Homo sapiens: one gene and its partner. The protein of the gene in region 2 purifies or fractionates together with the protein of the main gene of each other region. This does not show direct contact. Each region holds a gene or a part of one and is shown on either strand. Other genes may lie near its edges. The genes, in order: EIF4B and SLC45A3.

The links.
Region 1: the proteins of SLC45A3 (region 2) and EIF4B purify together in Homo sapiens (affinity purification with mass spectrometry; 2 studies listed by BioGRID and IntAct, with this or other methods). This does not show direct contact.

The regions. Positions count from the first base shown.
Region 1 is NC_000012.12:53,037,440-53,042,982, forward strand, and holds the end of EIF4B (eukaryotic translation initiation factor 4B), read left to right. Parts: coding exon 1-183; intron 184-916; coding exon 917-972; intron 973-1,798; coding exon 1,799-1,904; intron 1,905-2,190; coding exon 2,191-2,263; intron 2,264-2,703; coding exon 2,704-2,784; 3' UTR 2,785-4,776; downstream 4,777-5,543. UniProt on the Homo sapiens protein: Required for the binding of mRNA to ribosomes. Functions in close association with EIF4-F and EIF4-A. Binds near the 5'-terminal cap of mRNA in presence of EIF-4F and ATP.
Region 2 is NC_000001.11:205,657,151-205,663,592, forward strand, and holds the end of SLC45A3 (solute carrier family 45 member 3), read right to left. Parts: coding exon 5,683-6,442; intron 4,977-5,682; coding exon 4,711-4,976; intron 2,522-4,710; coding exon 2,084-2,521; 3' UTR 701-2,083; downstream 1-700. UniProt on the Homo sapiens protein: Proton-associated sucrose transporter. May be able to transport also glucose and fructose.

The DNA of each region.
Region 1 (5,543 bases), on a different chromosome or scaffold from region 2:
AGAAAATGAAACACTCAATAAGGAGGAAGATTGCCACTCTCCAACTTCTAAACCTCCCAAACCTGATCAGCCCCTAAAGGTAATGCCAGCCCCTCCACCAAAGGAGAATGCTTGGGTGAAGCGAAGTTCTAACCCTCCTGCTCGATCTCAGAGCTCAGACACAGAGCAGCAGTCCCCTACAAGGTGAGTCAGTTTGGAAACAGTAGTTGGTTAACTGCAGATTCTAAAATACTGTGATGTAATGATGGAAGATCTCCTACGGGATGCCAGCGTTGTATAGCACCTTATAAGTTATGCTGGCTTTAGTCTCTTAGTGTGCTGGAACTGGCTCATAAGACCTAGTTGTTCCATTTTCTGGAGTTCCACCACTTTGATAGCTTGAAATCAGCTATGATGGGAGTACTAATGCCGCACAAATCTGCAAATACTGTAAGTCAGAGGCTTCCCTTTTGCCACATATTGGCAGTATGGTAGGGGGTAACTTCCTTTCATTTCTCTTAAGTCTTCTCATTTGTAAGCAAAATAGCAACACTATTAGCCTGGCGTGGTGGCAGGTACCTGTAATCCCAGCTACTCGGGAGGCTGAGGCAGGAGAATTGCTTGAACCTGAGAGCGGAGGTTGCAGTGAGCCGAGATGTGCCATTGCACTCCAGCCTGGGCGACAGAGTTAAGACTCCAAAAGAAAAGAAAATAGCAATACTAATCCTGCATGATGTGATGATTAGAAAGCATATGGCACTTTAGTGTTCAAATTACTGCTTTCATTGTAATCTTTCCCATATTTTAATGTTCCATAACATTGAGTATGATTTTGTTTTCTATAAAGCTTACCCACTGCATTTGGAGGATGATTATGTTTCTTGGTTGTTTTCTCCCTGAAACAACTGATGAATGTGATTACCTGTTTTCCTTCTAGTGGTGGGGGAAAAGTAGCTCCAGCTCAACCATCTGAGGAAGGACCAGGAAGGAAAGGTGAGCTCATAGTATGGGAAATAGGTTTTTCACCTAGAAGCCTAAATAAAAAGGCCTCCAAAATTAGATTTTGAAGAGCAGTGTGTCTCGCACCTGATACCGTGTTAAGAGTTCTTGGGTTGGCCAGGCGCAGGGGCTCACACCTGTAATCCCAGCACTTTGGGAGGCCAAGGCGGGCAGATCACAGGGCAGGAGTTTGAGACCAGCCTTACCAACATGGTGAAACCCCGTCTCTATTAAAAATACAAAAAAAATTAGCCGGGTGTGGTGGCACATGCCTGTAATCCCAGCTACTCGGGAGACGCTGAGGCAGGAGAATTGCTTGAACCCGGGAGACGGAGGTTGCAGTAAGCCAAGATGGCCCCACTGCACTCCAGCCTGGGCGACAGAGCAAGACTCTGTCTCAAAAAAAAAAGAATTATTGGGTTATCTACCTTTTCTTGCCAGTAGAGGGAGGAGTGGCCTCTTTGGAGAAAGTATGAAACCCTGCCCTTTCCTGGTAGAACATTTCTTTGACGGGGAGAAAAAAATCGGAAGGAAATTAACCAAGGTCACTACAGAGCGTCATAATCTTTATTTCCAGCTTGCTTTTCATGATGGCATATCCCTACATGGAACTTTTTAGTGGATTTTGTTTGTTTTTTGTATTTTTGTGTGCTGTAGAGGATGTGGAAAGAAGGGCTTCAGGAAGGAAGTCTGGGTTGGGGTGAGGTTAGTTTCCCTCAGTACATGTGGGCACAATTTTCTTCAGCTTAAGGGAAATCTTAGGAGAGGGACATTGATACTTTTACTTGCCTTTAATTTGTTTACATTACTGCCCAAGCAGATGAAAATAAAGTAGATGGGATGAATGCCCCAAAAGGCCAAACTGGGAACTCTAGCCGTGGTCCAGGCGACGGAGGGAACAGAGACCACTGGAAGGAGTCAGATAGGTATGCTTGTTCTCTTTCTCATCTTTCCTCTGATCCACATGTTTGTGTAATTAAGAAATTAAGTTCTTGGTTCTCAGAGCACTGCCAGATCGCTCATTGTGAGCAAACTAAAGTCAGCCAACGTAGACAGTTAAGATTCTGAAAATCTAGAAGTAATACATCATCCAGACAACAAGGACTGTTGACTAGAGGTGCCTGTTCAGTGCCTTGAAACTGCATGCATACACATGTTTGTATTAGGCGAGTCCTTTCCTAAAGACATGGTTTTATGCTTACGTCTCTGCAGGAAAGATGGCAAAAAGGATCAAGACTCCAGATCTGCACCTGAGCCAAAGAAACCTGAGGAAAATCCAGCTTCCGTAAGTGTTGAAGGCTGCTCCCAATTTTTCATTCTAAGAAAAATTCTTAGAATTCTAAGTATTCTTACTAAGAATTAAAAATTCTTAGTATTCTAAACTTTTTGCCGTTGGACTTCTTTCCATTTGGAATACAAAGTGTTTGGAAATAAGACATTGGTCTTTACTGAAATAGCGAAAGAAGTTTAGCTTTTTCCTGGTTTCTGTCTTCCTTTGTTCTCATCCCTTCTGCAAGGTGTAGAGGTGGTATGAGACTATAGTAAGATCGCATGTGCCTCTGACCCTCTTCCCTAGCTCCTCTCCAATGGACAATGCTGATGAGCAAGCAAGTGGGTGTCATCTGACTGTCATCCCCCATTGCCAAAGGATCAGTATCCTGTGTCTTGGGTTTTGATGTGATAATTCAGGGCCTTCATTATCCTGTCACTCTCGTTGTGTTACAGAAGTTCAGTTCTGCAAGCAAGTATGCTGCTCTCTCTGTTGATGGTGAAGATGAAAATGAGGGAGAAGATTATGCCGAATAGACCTCTACATCCTGTGCTTTTCTCCTAGTTTCTCTCCACCCTGGAACATTCGAGAGCAAATCAAAACCTCTATCCAGACAAGACAAAATAAAACTCACCATCTCCTGAAGACCTTTCTTACCTTTTTTTAAAAACAAAAAATGAAATTATTTTGCATGCTGCTGCAGCCTTTAAAGTATTGAAGTAACTGGAGAATTGCCAATACAGCCAGAGAGAAAGGGACTACAGCTTTTTAGAGGAAAAGTTGTGGTGCGTTATGTCACCATGCAGTTGCCAGTGTGATTAGTGCCTAGGGGTCTCCATTTAGCAGAAATGGTAATGACAGTGATATAATGCCTGGAACCTGGTTGGGCAGTAGGGGAGGGAGGTAGAAGGAAAAGTGTGAGATTTCTACCTTTTAGTTTTTATCCTATTGTGGCATATATGAATTCTCAAACATTATCTGAATAAATTTTCCACTCTTGGAAAGGTAGATTTAGCCTCAAGTTGTTCTAGTCTCCAGGAGGCTGCCAGCCCCTCCTCTTATTTAATTCTGAGTTTTGGGGGCCAGCCTAGAGGGAATTCCTTTTTTTTTTTTAACCCCCCAGGGGGGTAGTTGGGAGTGAGACTATAGGCCATAAAGAATGGGACTGCATTGGACCAAAATAAATGGGAAAATCGTGGTTTGAAAAGAAGCTTTTGGGAAGTGATGAGTCATTTTGCACCAGGTAATAGGGGAAAATTGTGTGACCTCCAGCAAACACATGAATGGTTATTTCCTGGAGCCGGAAGCACTTGGGGGTCGTGGTAATTCCCAGTGTTTTCTGTGTCCTAGTTTTACCCTTTCTAAACACTGTCCTTTTTGAAAGTTTTGAATATATCCACATTCTATTGAAACCTTGAAACTAAAAATTTAGACTCTTATCATCATCTTAAGTTCTTCATGCTACTCTTAACCTCCCAAAAAGCAGTATCTAAGTCACATACATGATGTCTTGGGCATTTTCTCAGCCATGGAGAACTCTGAAAGGAAGAATCGCTGCTTTTCTCAAGCAAATCGGTTTCTTGATGTCTTTTGGTTCTCCTTGCCTGCTCCTGATGCTTGGACCCCTTTTATTGATCAGAGTGCTCTAGAATAATGGATGGTCTTGGATGATGGATAAATAGGGACAGGGACAGTTAAATTGGGAGCCTTTCTTACAACCTTGATGGGATTTTTCCCCCCAAGTTTCCTTCTCCACTGAAATGCCACACTAATGCTTGTTGGATTCATGAGGTGGCCAGACCAATGTGTTGTTTTGTTGTTGTTTTTTTAAGCTTCCCTTGAGAGAATAAATGGTAATGGAGAGAACTATTTAACAAGGTCCTGGTTTCTCTTGCAACACAGTAGCTAAACTTGCCTGCTTTTATATGCATTTTTGTAGGGATCAGCTTGGTAGACAGTATTAGCGGAGAAACACCTTGATCTTGGTTTGCAAGCCCTTCTCCCATCAGTCCTAGATTAGGCCCTGTTCAGCCATGCAGGGGTGTTGGTTTATGCGTGCTGCAGCAGTGGGCATAATGAATATAATTTACCCAGTGGACAAAGGTGTGTACCAAGTGAATTTAAATAATTGGTGTGGATTGGCCAGTAGCTAAGAAGTGGGCTTTTAAAGAGTATTGAAGATTGAAAGGGTTTTTCTTTCTTTTTTAAAAAAGAAAAACAAACTATTGATTGTAGATAATGAAAAGCTAGGGTTTGCCCTCTTCATGTCTACTCTCCTTCCAAATAGTTATATCCAAAACTGTTTTTCCCTCTCCCCTACCTTGTCCCCCCTATTAAAATAGAAACAGGGATTGATTAATGTCCCGCTCCTGAATACATGTAAAATTTGTACAAAAATATCTTCTATGAAAATGATTTGTAATCTGTAGACTTATTACCTGGGAGATGTCTTGATGTAAAATCCCATCCTTTGGGTTGTGGGTTTTTTGTTTTCTCCAAATAAATCTGATCTTTAAAGTTCATTGTAATGCTGAAGTTCTTTGACAAATACTCTGCACTCCCAGTGGTTTTTACTGTAGTCATTGACCACCTGCTCCTCCTCCTCCTACCATCTCTGAAGTTTTCATTCAGTATTGGATACCATATTGTCCAAGATTAGAGGGTGGGGTTACAAGGGAATCTATTTCAGTGTTTATTGAGGCCCAATAATAGAGTTTGCATCCTAGCTCCCCTCTGGCTTTTTTTTTTTTTTTTTTTTTTTTTTTTGCCTGGTGTTAAATTTTTTAATCACCTGGATGTGCCTGCAGTCTATTTCCTGTACTGTTTATTTTAATCAAGATGTGGGAACTCTAAGAATGAATCCTTGTGTCCTTGGGGCAGTTCCCTCATAATCTCCCTCCCTCACTTCAGCAATCTGGAGAGATGCTGCTCCCTTGAGTTACACCGCACTGGTGGACCAGAGATACTGGTGACAGGCTGGTCGAGGTTACCAGAACAGAGGCTCACAGACTCAGTGGGAATTTTCCAAACAGCTAGGGACAGACTGGTCATTGTTGCAAGGCGGGAAAGGGGTTAGGACAGTGGCAGAGAATCCTTAAGGTCACAAGGAGGTGGAGCATAGAAAGGAGCCCGGGAAACCTCAGTCAACAATTTTGGGGATTTAAGAGCCAAGATGAGGAGCCAGTTAAATGATTTCCCAGCCAATTGGAGCAGCTGCTCTTCTAGTTTCTGGCCAGTGCATTTATCTCTGTTCTCCAAAACTGGTAAAGTTGAAGGCTATGAGACTCAGCTGTGA
Region 2 (6,442 bases):
GGCATGAACCAAGGCACAGTGGGGTCAAAAGCCTCATCGTGCACATGCCAAGTGCATTCCCTATTCCCATGCTGTGGGTGATGGGTGCTTGTTCCATCTCCTGGCCACACTATGGGTTTTTTTTTTTTTTTTCATTTTTTGAGATGGAGTTTCACTCTTGTCACCCAGGATGGAGTGCAATGGCACGATCTCGGCTCACTGCAACCTCCACCTCCTGGATTCAAGCGATTCTCCTGCCTCAGCCTCCCGAGTAGCTGGGATTACAGGCACGCACCACCACACCTGGCTAATTTTTTATATTTTTAGTAGAGACAGGGTTTCATCATGTTGGCCAGGCTGGTCTCGGAACTCCTGACCTCAAGTGATCCACCTGCCTCAGCCTCCCAAAGTGCTGGGATTACAGGCGTGAGTCATCATGCCCATCCCTACTCAGGGGTCTTTTAGAAGGAAAATGCCACCATTGCCCCACACTTCAGACTCTTTCTGACCCCCTCTCCCCAACTCCGAAACCCCCCAGTCCAAGGTGCAGCACAACCCCCCACAATTGGCAATTGACACAAAGAGTGCTGGTCTATGCCTCCACCTGCTGGTGGCCACTGGGAAGTGAAGCTGTCAAAAGCCAAAGGGCTCCCTGAACTGAGAGTTAAGAATGTTGTAGAAAGATCAGGTCTTTCCCCCTCCTAAAAGAAACACATGCCAATAAACATATAAGAAAGCCTTTAATTTTGTCACCATAAACATTATACTCTGATTGCTCACTTACAGTATAAAATATTCACCCCGCTAAATAAATAAGACGACATTATTGCAAACGGCACTTAAACCCCCCCTGAGAGATAAGACCTCCCTTAGCTCAGGCAGGGGGTGCTCCTGAGTTTCTGTGTGAGATTCCCCAAGCACAGATATACTCTGGGGGCTGAGATGGACAAAGGCTTGGGAAACCGCACTTTGTGCTTCTGGTCCTGCAGTAGCTCCAAACAGGGTTGTGGAGCTGGTGGGGAAAGTTGGGGGTAGGGGAAAGTTGGGGGTAGGGGAAATTTTGGGCAGTGCCTTCATCAGCCCAGTCCTAGAGAGAGTAGAGGGGAGTGGAAGTGGGGGGAACCAGGCTGGGCCAAGAGAAGAGGGGTGGTTAGGGAAGCCGTTGAGACCTGAAGCCCCACCCTCTACCTTCCTTCAACACCCTAACCTTGGGTAACAGCATTTGGAATTATCATTTGGGATGAGTAGAATTTCCAAGGTCCTGGGTTAGGCATTTTGGGGGGCCAGACCCCAGGAGAAGAAGATTCTGGCAATGATCAGCCCAATGACCAGCTATCTCAGGGGACCTGATTGTTGGGGATCCCCCACCCTACCCAAATATTAGACACCAACACAGAAAAGCTAGCAATGGATTCCCTTCTACTTTGTTAAATAAATAAGTTAAATATTTAAATGCCTGTGTCTCTGTGATGGCAACAGAAGGACCAACAGGCCACATCCTGATAAAAGGTAAGAGGGGGGTGGATCAGCAAAAAGACAGTGCTGTGGGCTGAGGGGACCTGGTTCTTGTGTGTTGCCCCTCAGGACTCTTCCCCTACAAATAACTTTCATATGTTCAAATCCCATGGAGGAGTGTTTCATCCTAGAAACTCCCATGCAAGAGCTACATTAAACGAAGCTGCAGGTTAAGGGGCTTAGAGATGGGAAACCAGGTGACTGAGTTTATTCAGCTCCCAAAAACCCTTCTCTAGGTGTGTCTCAACTAGGAGGCTAGCTGTTAACCCTGAGCCTGGGTAATCCACCTGCAGAGTCCCCGCATTCCAGTGCATGGAGCCCTTCTGGCCTCCCTGTATAAGTCCAGACTGAAACCCCCTTGGAAGGCCTCCAGTCAGGCAGCCCTAGAGACTGGGGAGAGAGGAGAGGGACGCCCCAGCCCCCAGCTGTGCAGCTACGCACCTCAGCAGCACAGGGTGGCAGCAGAGAGCCACATTACTTTGGCAGCAACAGAAACTGGCGGCCAGCCCGGCAGCCCCATGGGGCTAACAGGAGCGGGGAGCTGGGACCCAGTGAGGCAGGCCCTCCACCCCAATGTGCTGGAAGTTTTCTACGCTGAGTATTTGGCCAAGTCGCTCTTGTCAAATACTACCTGTGTAGCAAAGTAAATGGCGACCAGACCCAGGCCTGCGGCAGACACCATATAGGCAGTGACAGACTGGCTGAGCTGGACAATGGAGCCCATAAACAGGGATGGGGCCACCTGGGACAGCAGGAAGGCACTATCCAGGATGGCGAGGTCCAGGCAGATGCCCCGGCCCGGAACCACCCTGGCCTCGGTGGGCTCACCCACCACCACACGTACGGAGACATCACAGGCAGAGGCCCCGCAGAGCGCGGGTGGAGGTGGGAGCAGGCCACTGCCTCCAGCACCCACGTGTCCATTAGGGAAGGGAGCTCCAGGCTTAGGGCCTGGCAGGAAGCTGGTCATCAGGCTGTCCTCACTGCTAGCACCTCCAGTGTCCCCTCGGTATTTGGGCAGGAACACCTAAGGCAGAGGGGTGAAGAAAAGGGGAAGAGGACAGGTGTGTACCCAGCACTGGCACCACCCCAGCTGTGAGAACAGACCCTTGCCTCCATCCCAGGGGCAATGGGACTTCATGAGAATCAGGAGCAGGAGAGAAGATGGAGACCCTACTTGGTCCAAGTCTAACCAGGACCCTTCCTCAGGAGTGGGAGAAGGGTAACGGGGTAGGGCGGGGACAAATGTGAACCCAGAAGTCTAGGTCTCCTCTAGCCTCTTAGAACAGGTAAGAGGCAGACAAACTCAATATCACAGATCAGAGAGAACAGAGCTCCAAGGTAAGGAAAAGACACAGGGGGAATGAAGACGGTGGTAAGAGATGCACAGAACAGAGGAACAAAAGCCAAGGCAGGGCCCCTGATGGCCCAAACCCCACGCAGGCTCTCCTAACCTTCCTTCCTGCCTGCCCTCCACTCCGACATCTGGAAATCCTCATTGCCCGGTGCAGAGAAGCTCTGCCTCTCTGGGGTCCCAGATGCCACTAGGGTAGCTGCCCTGCCATGAGCTCCCTTGTCCCCAGCCTTGGGGCAGGGAGAATCCAGTAGACCCCAAGCAGGAGGAATGTCCCTCTTCCCACCTCCCCCAGCCCCAGCTGTGCTAATGTTGAAGGCTTCTCACTTCCTTCCTGCTGTCTGACTTAGATCAGAGTGACTGGTCGACCACCATCCCCCCAACCCCTGCCCTTGATGGCCCAGAGCCTCCTATTTAAGGACAAGGCCAGGTCTTATCCAACATTGTCCCCATGCCAGAAGAGTTGAGTTGGCTGCATTTGCGAGGTGGGAGCCATGGCAGAGCTCAAACCTGACACCAGGGAAGCCCACGGCTCACCATGCAGCTCAACAAGTGGGCAAAGGAACAGGCAGACAGCGTGCAGTGCCAAGTCTGCCATCAGCTGCTGTTAGGAAGGGGCCTCCCAGGACTTCTCCTCCCTGCCTGCCACCCCAGGAATGTCCGCTGAGGTTGGAGTCTGGAGTGGTCCGAGGACAGACATGCTCCTCCATCTGGAGAAGATGGCTAGCCCCAGAACGTTCCCTGGCACGACAGCACATACTCAGGCCTGGCCGCTGATGCCAGCCCCCTGCCCCCAGCCCAGGCAAGCAGAAGAGTGAAGGCTGAAGAAGGTTATCAGTGGGCTAACAGGGGTCTCAGGGACCAGGCTCCCCCAACCAAAACCTTAGCCCCTCCCCTCCATACCTCTCACCCCTGCAGCTACCTACTCAGTTAACCAGCCTCTCAGCTACGAACTTACCTACTCCTCTCCTCAAGTGCTACGAGACGCAGGGGCAGGTCTTCCCTACAGTCTGAGAGCTCTATGAGAGCAGTCCTGCATCTCCTCCTCCCTTGGGACACCCCAACTTCATGCCCCTCAAGGCAGAGTCCAGCACCCAGGTTTGTAGCTCAGTGAGGTCAGTGGAGGGGACAAGGATGACCACACTACCTGGGTTAGGTGGCTTCCCAAGGAAAGGGGCCCCTGGAGGGGCTGGTTAGTGTAGGGCCAACCAAGAAGGAGGTCCCCACAACTTACACAGTGCCCAAGTGAGTGGGTCAGGTGTCAAGCTCAGATATCTGCCACAGGGGAAGGGGAAGGGGAAGGAGAAAGGGAAGGAGGCAAAGGAGGGATGCAGGAAAAGAAAAGGGAATTAGACAGAAAAGAAAAATAAGCCAGAAAGAAAGGGGGTAGGAAGGAGCCTGCCCCATCTCAGAGACCAGAGTAGGATACAGGCTAAGTCAGGTTGCTGCTCCCTGAAGAAAGGTGTTGCTAAGGCTGGACCATTCCCACTCCCGTCTGCTGAGGCTGAATGGCCCAGGGGTCATCTGATTCAGCGCCCTGCCTCTCCATAGAACAACCAGCCTAGAAGCCTAGGGCTCCTGCTGGCCTGACCCTTCGGGATTCCCACTATCGTATTTTGCATTTCCTGCAATCATCCATTCAAGTGCTACACAGTCCTGACCCCAGGAAGTCATTCCCAGAATCTAATCTACACTGTTCTGCAGCCCAAGCCTCTGGCCCTGGGGCTAGGATAAGCTTCTTCTCTGATTCAAAGAAGCATTCTCCAAAGTTGCTTGCCAGATACCAGGTTCTGAGCTAGTTGGCCTCCCAAAAACCCAGACCACCCCTCCCACCCTGACTCCACCCACTGGCCAATGAGTACCTGCTTCTCCCGGTGGTAGAGGGAGGCCAGTGTGTAGGGCAGGATCTGCAGGGCTGAGAAGGTGAACCCGGTGAGGGCGGCTGAAGCTGTCACCACGGCCACACTGTGGGACAGGCATGTGGCACCGGCAGCCACAGGGAAAGCTGCCACACTGGCCAAATAGACTGCTCGAGTGCCGAATCGCTGCACCAGCCGGTCCATGACCAGAGAGAAGACCAGGGAGATGGCGCACTGCAGGAACAGCCCCAGGCTGCCCATCCGAACGCCTGCAGAGGGAGAGGGGCCATCAGACAGAGCCTGGGAGGGAAGGGTCGGAGCAGTCTCAGGGAGATGAGAAGGCGGAACCACAGGTACCTGCTGCACGAGACCTGCTGTGGACCAGCCCTGCTCCCCAGCACCCTTCCCCTTTCTACCTCTAGCAATGGGAGTCTAGGTTCTTCCACTGACCCTCAGAGAATGTGGGCAACGCCCCTTGCTGAAGGCAGAGGAAGGTAGTCTGAAGGTTTCCTGGGAGTCTCAGCTGTGAGGACAGGCGGGTGAGAGGGAACACAAAGACAGCTGGCCATAGGCTTCAAGACGCTTCTAGGACGCCTGAGCTGGAAGGCGCTGGTGAGATTATTTGGAAAGTCGTTGGGGGAGCAGAGGGCACACTGCGGCTGGAACCAGGCAGATCTGAAATCCAGCCTTAACTCCTCCACTCCCTCTAGACTTTGAATAAGCTCCGCCTTTCCTTCTGTCAAACTGGGGCAACGACTCTGATCAGACTCCTAGAGCAGCCAGAGGCCTTCCTGAAACCGCAAGCAGAGATGTTCCACACCCATGAGAAGCCGTGTATGCAGATGGGGTCCATCCCCACTTTCCTGACAGAGAAGTCGGGGCCAGGATGGAGAGGCACCAGCCCAGACACAGCCCCGAGTGTCGTCTCTGGTGGGCGGCTCCCACACCAGCCTCTGCTGGCTGCCAAGGCCTTACCTTCATCATAGTGTCTCCGGGCCTCGGTGCCCGGCTCAGCTCTGGGCACGCCCTGGTACAGCCCCTCGCCCACGAAATCCGTGTAAAACAGCGTGAAGGTCATGAGTGCCATCCAGCTGCACAGCTCAGCCACGAAGAGCCGGCGCAGGGTGCGGGGCATGCGGCAGCACAGCTGGTGCAGCCGGGGAAGCAGGGCGCCCAGGTTCCGGAAAGCCAAGCGGGCCCGGCATGGACAGCAGTGGGGCGACAAGGAGGGGGCCGACAGCCCTTCTGCTGGCTCGGTGGGGCCCAGCGCTGCCTCCTCAGCCACCAGCAGTGTGGCTGCTACGCAGGTGAGGAAGATGAGGGTGAGCAGGCCAAAGAGGCACTCCTCCTGGGTGCCCAGGTAGGGGGCCAGGGCACTGGTGTCCCAGTCAATGGCAGGCAGGAGGTAGCCCAGGCAGCCCCCAAGACTGATCATGAAGGCATAGACAGAGTAGGCCTGGCGACAGTGGTCCGGGTCCCGGAAGAGGTCAGAGAGCAGGGCCTCCAGTGGAGTGAAGCACACCTGGCCACAGAAGTCCAGCAGCCCCACGCCCAGGATGAGCAGTGCCAGCTCCAGGGGCCTGGGATCCGGGCACAGCAGCCCTGCTAGCCAGCCGGCCCTTGGGATGAGAAAGAGGCTCAGCAGGATGCCCAAGGACAGTGCCCAGATGAAGGGCCGGCGGCGGCCATAGCGTCCACGCCAGTGGTCACTGGCTGAGCCTAGGAGCGGGACACA